Linked DNA regions of Homo sapiens: region 1 is linked to region 2. The links come from fine-mapping of genetic effects on gene expression. A gene starts in region 2. The other region holds a variant in brackets. All regions are shown on one strand. Distances are between the middles of the regions.

Region 1 (4,388 bases), 30 kb before region 2:
AACCCCAATGTAAAAATTCCAGGCTTCCGCAGGGCTGGCACTCCGAGGCACCCGGGAGTCAGTGGCGACTCAGCCCCCGGGGCCTGCAGAGGGCCAGGCCTGGCTGCTCGCTGGTGTCCACAACACTGCTGTGGCTGGAGCTATGAGATGACGATCACGTCACAGGGTGGGGGCAGGATCAGGAAGCAGTGCCAGCCGGTGTCACTGTGCAAGGTCATGGGGTCATAGCAGGGGCACTGTGCAAGGTCATGGGGTCATAGCACAGGGCACAGCAGGGAATGTAGCTCCCATCACTTGTTTGCCAGTAGAGTCCGTTGTTTCACAGAATGCCCTGTTTTACTGTATGTATGGGACTCGAGACCCTCTGCTTTTCCTATTCCTTTCCCCAGTCAGGAGGCCTAACTTCTGTGGTTCTCTGTTGCAGGCAAGCGCACCCCCTGGCGGGGGATTCTGCTGTTCGGACCCCCTGGCACAGGGAAATCCTACCTGGCCAAAGCCGTGGCAACAGAGGCCAACAACTCCACCTTCTTCTCTGTGTCCTCCTCAGATCTGATGTCCAAGTGGCTGGGGGAGAGTGAAAAGTAAGTCGGCCACCAGGCCATGCTCTGCCAGCAGCCCCGGCACTGCTAGTGACCCAGCGGCCCACCCTGTGGAGTCACCTCTCAGAGGAGTGGTTTGGTTTTCAGGGAGGGTACCCAAGAGCAGTGTGTCGCTAGCTTATCGGCTGGGACACAGTCCCAACAAAGACAAGTGAAGGTGGAAGGGACCTGGGAGAGGTGAAGTGCTCCACAAGAGAAGGGAAAGGAAGTGAGGATATTTTTGGGGTCTGGGTTGCGGTCCCTGTTGGGGCAGTGTGTGGGGGACATGGTTCCCCACACTGACTCCTGTTTTGCGTGTGATGAGACGGGCTCGGAAGAAGGGGACTGACGTGTTGTAAGTGCAGAGCTAGCGCATGGGGCTCCTGGGATTGAGGCTCTGCGTTTGGGGCTGACACCAAGGTGTGCTCCTCCTCTTGGTGCAGTGTGGCCCGAGGGCTCCTCACCACCACGTTTTCCGCAATTCCGGCATGACCGTGGCCTGCGCCTCCCTGTGGGAAGGGTGAGAAGAGGGAAGTGCCGGGAGCCCAGGCGGGCACGGACGTGAACGTCTTGTCCTCACCCCCTTTCTCACCTTCACAGGCTGGTCAAGAACCTGTTTGAGCTGGCCAGGCAGCACAAGCCCTCCATCATCTTCATCGATGAGGTGGATTCCCTCTGCGGGTCCCGAAATGAAAATGAGAGTGAGGCCGCCCGGAGGATCAAAACGGAGTTCTTGGTCCAGATGCAGGGTGTGTGCCGGGCCCAGGGCCCCCTTGGTTCTTGTTGCACCTGAAGCCAACCCTGGGCTTTATTCTGAGCTGCGGCTGGATTTGGTTGTTCTCAGCCTCGGAGAGGCACTCCCCAGCTCCAGCCCCTCAGGGCACGGGTGGACTTCAATTCCCAAGAGGTGCCTGAGGCCTCTGCCTCACGGGCCACTCCACCCCTCCCATGGCAGGCAGTGCCATAGGTCTCACCTGGCACAGCCAGACCAAGATGTGGTTTAATCTCACTTGGGACCCTGCCAGTGGTGGGTGGCACAGGGATGGCTTCAATTGCTGACACACAAAGCCCCCGGGGTCTGTCCCCAGGTTTCAACTGACCCGTGCAGGTGTCCAGAGTCTGAGTCTTTGTCTCCCTTTCTCCACAGGGGTGGGGAATAACAATGATGGGACTCTGGTTCTTGGAGCCACAAACATCCCATGGGTGTTGGATTCGGCCATCAGGAGGAGGTGAGTCTT[C/T]CCCAGGAGAAGCCAGGGCTGGAGGCTTCCTCCCACCATGGTCACGGTCCGCCTGCTGCTGGCAGCCCGGGTGCAGCCTGGCCCCTTTTCCCTGGAGTCTTCCCGTCTGCCTGCCAAGCAGAGCCCTTTGTGAGGCTGGCTTGTTGAGGATGTGCCGCCAGCATCACTGGCCCATGAAATGCGTCCGTTTCACTCAAATCTTCGTGCCTCCCCTTCCGTGAATACCATTCCATCATCCGCTGTCAACTCCTGCCGTGTGCTGGGCTCTCTAGGTTTGAAAAACGAATTTATATCCCCTTGCCGGAGGAAGCTGCCCGCGCCCAGATGTTCCGGTTGCATCTCGGGAGCACTCCCCACAACCTCACGGATGCAAACATCCACGAGCTGGCCCGGAAGACGGAAGGCTACTCGGGCGCGGACATCAGCATCATCGTGCGGGACTCTCTCATGCAGCCCGTGAGGAAGGTGCAGTCGGCCACACACTTCAAAAAGGTGAGTGCCCGCGGCCACTGCTGAGAAAAATCTCATAGTAAGAGCGGGATGTTCGGTTTTTTTTTTCCCAGCTCCTGGTCCTGCTCCCCGGCTGCTCAGGTGACACAGTCTCTGAGGCCTCCTGGAGAGCCGAGGGCCAGTGCCATGGGGGCTGCACCCACTGTCCCCTCCCTGCAGCTCTTCTGGAGTGTGGCCATCTCAGGGTGTGTGAAAGCAGAGGACAGGGCCACTTTACTGTCTTAACCCTGCTGCGGCCTCCTCCGTCAGCACTGTGTGCTCTTGTGCGGGGTGGACACCAAATCAGTGTTTGGAAAGTGTTGGATATAAAATGACCAGGAAGACCTGTCTATTCATTCAGCAGATCTCTGCTGAGTATTTGCTGTGGGTCCTCCTGTGTGCCCGGCCCTGTCCTAAGTGCTGGGAAGATATGAGTGACCAACAGACAAAAATCCTAGACCTTCCGTTGTTGGTGGGGAGACAGTCAACACAGTCAGTGAGTGTCTCAGAGGATGGAGATGGAGCAGGGTTAGGAGAGAGGTGTCTCGGGCATGGAGGGAAGGGCAGATGGCACTGGGGTGATGCCTGAGACAGGAGGTGAAGGTGTGAGGGAATGAGCCTTGTGGACATTGGGGGAATGTTTTGCCAAGGCAGCGGACTTCAGTTGGAAAACCACTTTGTGTTAATCTATTTTCATGCTGCTGATAAAGACATACCCGAGACTGGGAAGAAAAAGAGGTTTAATTGGCCTTACAGTTCCACATGGCTAGGGAGGCCTCAGAATCATGGTAGGAGACCAAAGGCACTTCTTACATGCTGGTGGCAAGAGAAAATGAAGAAACAAAAGTGGAAACCCCTGATAAACCCATCAGATCTCGTGAGACTTCACCATCACGAGAATAGCACGGGAAAGACCAGCCCCCATGATTCAGTTACCTCCCCCTGGGTCCCTCCCACAACATGTGGGAATTCTGGGAGATAGATACAGTTCAAGTTGAAATGTGGGTGGGGGCACAGCTAAACCATATCACACTTTTAATGTCACTGTATTCCTGGTGAGACGTGACAGTGTTAATGAGGAAGACATCAAGGCATTGGGGCTACAGATTGCCAGAGTCCCATGCAAATCATGAGTCGCTCGGACCACCCAGCCCGAGTTCTGAAGGAGCCCGTCCTCCTCAGATGCTAGGGACCCACAGAGCATTCTCTTTGGGACTTCCTTAGAGACCGGAGGGGTCGAGCCCCTCTGACACTGAGGGGCAGCTGCCCCAGTCAGATCCATTTGGTTTCAGGTCTGTGGCCCCTCTCGCACCAACCCCAGCATGATGATTGATGACCTCCTGACTCCATGCTCACCAGGGGACCCAGGAGCCATGGAGATGACTTGGATGGATGTCCCTGGGGACAAACTCTTAGAGCCTGTGGTTTGCATGGTAAGTGACTTGACAGGGGAGGGAAGAGGGCTGCACAGAGCCCAGAAAATTGAGGGTTTGGGTCCAGAATAAAAACGGTCTTCTCCAGGCCAGGCATGGTAGCTCACGCCTGTAATCCCAGCACTTTGGGAGGCCAGGGTGGGCAGATCACAAGGTTAGGAGTTCGAGACCAGCCTAGCCAATATGGAGAAACCCTGTCTCTACTAAAAATACAAAAATTAGCCGGGTGTGGTGGTGTGCACTTGTAGTCCCAGCTACTCAGGAGGCTGAGGCAGAAGGATCGCTTGAAGCCGGGAGGCAGAGGTTGCAGTGAGCAGAGATTGGGCCACTGCACTCCAGCCTGGGTGACAGAGTGAGACTCCGTCTCAAAAATAAAAAATAGTCTTCTTCTATGTCCTGGGCTGTTGAGAATGGCCTTTGTAGCTCAGGGAAGCTGGCATTACACTCACTGGGGGCCCAGAATGCAGGTGGCAGCATTAGCATTTTGTACATACAGAGAAAGGCTAGATGCAGTGGTGCAGTGATAGCTCACTGCAGGCTTGACCTCACGAGCTCACACAATCTTCTGACCTCAGCCTCCTGAGTAGCAACAGGCACACACCATCATGCCCAGCTAATTTTTCCTTTTTTTTTTAGAAACGGCCTCACAG
Region 2 (4,388 bases):
GGAATTCTGTATTATAAATGGGTCTCTGTTTTTTGGTCACTTTCCCAGAATCTGATTAACTGGAGATGATGAGATAAAATTGAGCGGCTGAACCCTAGACTTAGAATGCTCACCTGGAGTGTTGCCCCCAAATCGTCAGTAGACTGCCACTTGGCATCCTTGGAGGTCAGCAGCCTCCAGGAACACTGGTTTTTGGTGTTAAAGGCTGAATTTTTTTCCTACTGTTAAAACATCTCTGTATACTTCCTCATTATTTCTGTAATTTCATAGGACCCTATGATTATTATAATAGCCATGGTAATGAAAACAGACCTGTCTCTTGGGTAGAGAAGTTAATCTGGCCCCGAACACCCTGGGAGGTGTCTATGAGAAATCCCTGTGGGTTATGTGCCGTGGCAGCAACATGCCGGTCATGTGACATCCCCACTGTCCGCTGAACCTGCCAAGACACATTAAATAGGTAGCAGAACCCCTGCTACATCACGAGGAAGCCAGCTGAGTGGTAAGATTGACGTCCCACGGTCATCAGCACAGCGGTCTCTGTCTGGGGTGGGACTGCCCAACCCCCTGCTGGGGTTTGGAGTTGATTGGAGGATTCTGAGGTATCACAGTGATGGTGTTAAGGGGAGGCAGCACAGCATTGCTGAACGTCTGCAATGTAAGAAACAGTACAGCAGGACAAAGAACTGCCCAGAATGCCAACAGCACCCGTGTGAAGAAGACATGCCTTGCTCGGAACACACAGCTAGTGTGGATCCACTAAAATGTATGATTCTGGGCCGGGCGCGGTGGCTCACGCCTGTAATCCCAGCACTTTGGGAGGCCGAGGTGGGCAGATTACAAGGTCAGGAGTTCGAGACCAGCCTGGCTAACATGGTGAAACCCTGTCTCTACTTAAAAAATACAAAAATTAGCCTGGCATGGTGGCGTGCGCCTATAATCCCAGCTACTTTGGAGGCTGAGGCAGGAGAATTGCTTGAACCCGGGAGGCAGGGATTGCAGTGACTCGAGATCATGCCACTGCACTCCAGCCTGAGCGACAGAGCAACACTCTGTCAAAAAAAAAAAAAAAAAAGTACGATTCTGGCTGTAGAATTTTTTATTTTTTTTGAGACGGAGTCTTGCTCTGTCACCCAGGCTGGAGTGCAGTGATCTTGGCTCACTGCAACCTCCACCTCCCAGGTTCAAGCGATTCTCCTGCCTCAGCCACCCAAGTAGCTGGGATTACAGGCACATGCCACCAAGCCCGGCTAATTTTTGTATTTTTAGTAGAGATGCGTTTTCACCATATTGGCCAAGGTGGTCTCGAACTCCTGACCTCAGGTGATCCGCCTGCCTCAGCCTCCCAAAGTGCTGGGATGACAGATGTGAGCCACCGCACCCGGCCTGGCTGTAGAGTTCTTGAATGAACTTGCTTGGTGGTTGAGCTCCCCAATGATGTCCCAGATTTGGGCATTTGCTGCTTGGCAGTGCACACCTACAACAAGCACTCCATGGACACTTGCTCCCAAGCTAGATCTTGATTAGGCCAGGCCACAGTGAGCTTAGTAGTGGCTGCTGTTCTAATAGAAATTCAGAGGTAAGAAAAGTCTCTGATAAGTTTATTTAAAATAAATGTTGTTACAGTGGAGTAAGATCAACAAAGTCTATTACTATGTAAACAAAAATTAGAAAGTTAACCGATTTCTAAGATAAAGAACAAAGGAAATGAACAGCCTCTAACTTTCATACTGAGTTCACCATCCTTGGACAGCATGATATAAGACCATAGTATGGGTAAAAGTACTTGACCTTTGAATAAGTAACTTGAAAACACTTACCGTCCTAAAAAAAAAAAATAGGATTAACTGGCCGAATACAAAAAACTTGACCTAGTGAATCTCTGACTTGCCAGAATTGCTCCTAAAGGCAGCAGAACCTTTACTCCCCCACCCCATAAGCTGAAGCAGCCTTCTTTGAAATCTCTGGATCAGTCTCCAAAGCACCATTATCCAATTTTGTTTTAATATATTAAAAATGTATTCTCTCCCCTCTCATCCCCAAATCCGAGTACATGTAATGATTACCTCTTCAGGGAGAGGCACCCCGTCTGCCCCATGGCTTTGAGCATGGCCCCTGATGTAAGAAGCCAAACCATATGTTTTAGCTCCTGTTGGTGATTATTCACCCAGCTGGAGTTTCCCTCTAACTGCAGGTCCATTTCATTAACAGGTGGGGAATCACAGCATAATAAAGACAACCAGACCTTGTTTTGGCCTAAAACCTGACCCACTTTATGAGTAAAGGAGAAAAAAAAAAGCCCCCCAGTATGGCCAGTCACCCACATACCTCGTAACTGAAATAGAAGTATCCAGTCTGGTGGGCAAATTGCCAAAAGCATTCCGTGCCTCCTGGAGGTATCATGATGGCAAAGTCATATCGATCAGCTCCACGGAAGAGTGGCTGGTCCCCAGAGCCACTTAGAGGTTCTGTCTTCTGGCTCCTGGCAGACGTCACTAGATTCAGAACGACCAGCCCAGCCCCAAAGAGCAAAGGGGACATGCCGCTTTCTGGAGCCTCCTCTGCAGGTGAACTGCTCGCAGCCCAGGGAAATCAAGTCGTTCAGACAACCGCTGGGCTAATGATTAACTCCACAAGTCACATTACGGCCCATTTCAGGGCCACACATAGATATTCATCATAGAACTGCCATGATACTCCCATGTTTGGCTCGCAGGAGGAAATTTTGCTTTCACCTCAAAAACTCAGTGGCTTACCAAACCTACTTCATGGGTGCTACATAGAATCTACCACCTCAGAAGAGGTCTTTCCACCCTTCATTAGGGCTGTCATTTTTTAGTTCCTGCTTCTTGGGGATATAATAGTGGGTAAGTTTACAACTTCTGAATACACTGACAAAAAGTTGGCTGGGGGGATTGTTCTCTTACATCAAATTGCTCCTATAAACACATGGGGCAACACTTCTCTCTCCCCAATGCTGCAGCTCAGAGCAAATCACAGCATGTGTGTGCAAAGATGTAAATGGATGAATACAGTGCCAGAGGATGGTGCTTAGACCCCTCCACTGACAGTCCTCGTCCTGATGCCTTTCACCTAACGGTCACCTAAAGCTATCCAAACCCACTGAAAGACAATTATATTATCCAAAGCCTCAATCTTTTTTTTTTTTTTTTTTTTTTTTTCTGAGATGGAGCGTAGCTTTGTCACCCAGGCTGGAGTGCAGTGGCACGATCTCTGCTCGCTGCAACCTCCACCTCCCCGGTTCAAGCGATTCTCCTGCCTCAGCCTCCTGAGTAGCTGGAATTACAGGTGCCTGCCACCATGCCCGGCTAATTTTTGAATTTTTAGTAGAGACAGGGTTTTACTATGTTGGCCAGGCTGGTCTCGAACTCCTGACCTCAAGTAATCCACCCGCCTCGGCCTCCCAGAATGCTGGGATTACAGGCATGAGCCACCACGCCCAGCCTTGATCTTTCTTTTATTCAGGACTTCTTCAGCACCCATGGGGGAAAAAACTATCCAGAACCCACTTAAAGACAATTATATTATTCACATCCTTAATCTTTATTCTTTTATTCATGATTTCAACACCCACCTCCTTCATGGCAGGCACTGAGCTAAGATTTACCTGCATCTTATTTTATTCTCACAATAGCCCTGCAAGGGAGGTATTGTGAGCTCTGGCATTAGAGATGAGGACACAGACATTCAGAGATTCCAGTGGTGGCTCACGCTCCCACAAGCACACCTGGCAGAGCTGGGTCCCCGGTGGGGGCTCATGCTCTTAACCACCAGGCAGGACAGTGTTTCTCATTCTCAAGCTGTCAGTCTCTGAGTTCTGACACTGCCTAACCATTTTTCAGTCCTAATCTTTTTTTTTTTTTTTTTTTTTTGCTTCCTTGAGATGGTATCACTCTGTCTTCCAGGCTGGAGTGCAGTGGCACAAACATAGCTCACTGCAGCCTCACCCCCTTGGGCTCAAACGATCCTCCCACCTCAGCCTCCCAAGTAGCTGGACCCACAGGAGTGCACCACCACACCTGGCTGATTTTTGTATTGTTTGTAGAGATGAGGTTTTGCCATGTTGCCTAGGCTGGTCTCAAACTCCTGGGCTCAAGTGATCCCCATGCTTTGGCCTCCTGAAGTGCTAGGATTACAGGTGTGAGCCACCGTGCCTAGCCTTAGTCATAATCTTAAAAAACAAAAAACAAAACAGCATTAACACCTTCCAGCAATTATTTGCATTGACTCAAAGTGTCACAAGCTAAGTAGGCAGAAAACAGACTCTATACATGGGGTTCAGTTCTAGCAAAGGCCAAATGACAGCACAGCACTCTGGGAGCACAGTGGCTCTATGGCAGTCTTGCTCAAGTGACAGAAGAGTCTGG

What was found.
Region 1: its variant is fine-mapped to the expression of TMED6 in prostate (GTEx, PIP 0.92).

Annotation. Positions count from the first base shown.
Region 1 is chr16:69,318,963-69,323,350 of GRCh38, forward strand. It overlaps VPS4A (vacuolar protein sorting 4 homolog A), which reads left to right. Exons shown (of 11, transcript NM_013245.3): 6 at 425-581; 7 at 1,179-1,327; 8 at 1,726-1,807; 9 at 2,089-2,308; 10 at 3,598-3,738. Among named protein-coding and RNA genes, the nearest start is that of PDF, 9.4 kb to the right of the region's middle. The variant C/T (reference allele first, on the strand shown) is at 1,817.
Region 2 is chr16:69,349,213-69,353,600 of GRCh38, forward strand. It overlaps TMED6 (transmembrane p24 trafficking protein 6), which reads right to left and starts at 2,574. Exons shown (of 4, transcript NM_144676.4): 1 at 2,329-2,574; 2 at 313-439. The coding sequence starts at 2,541.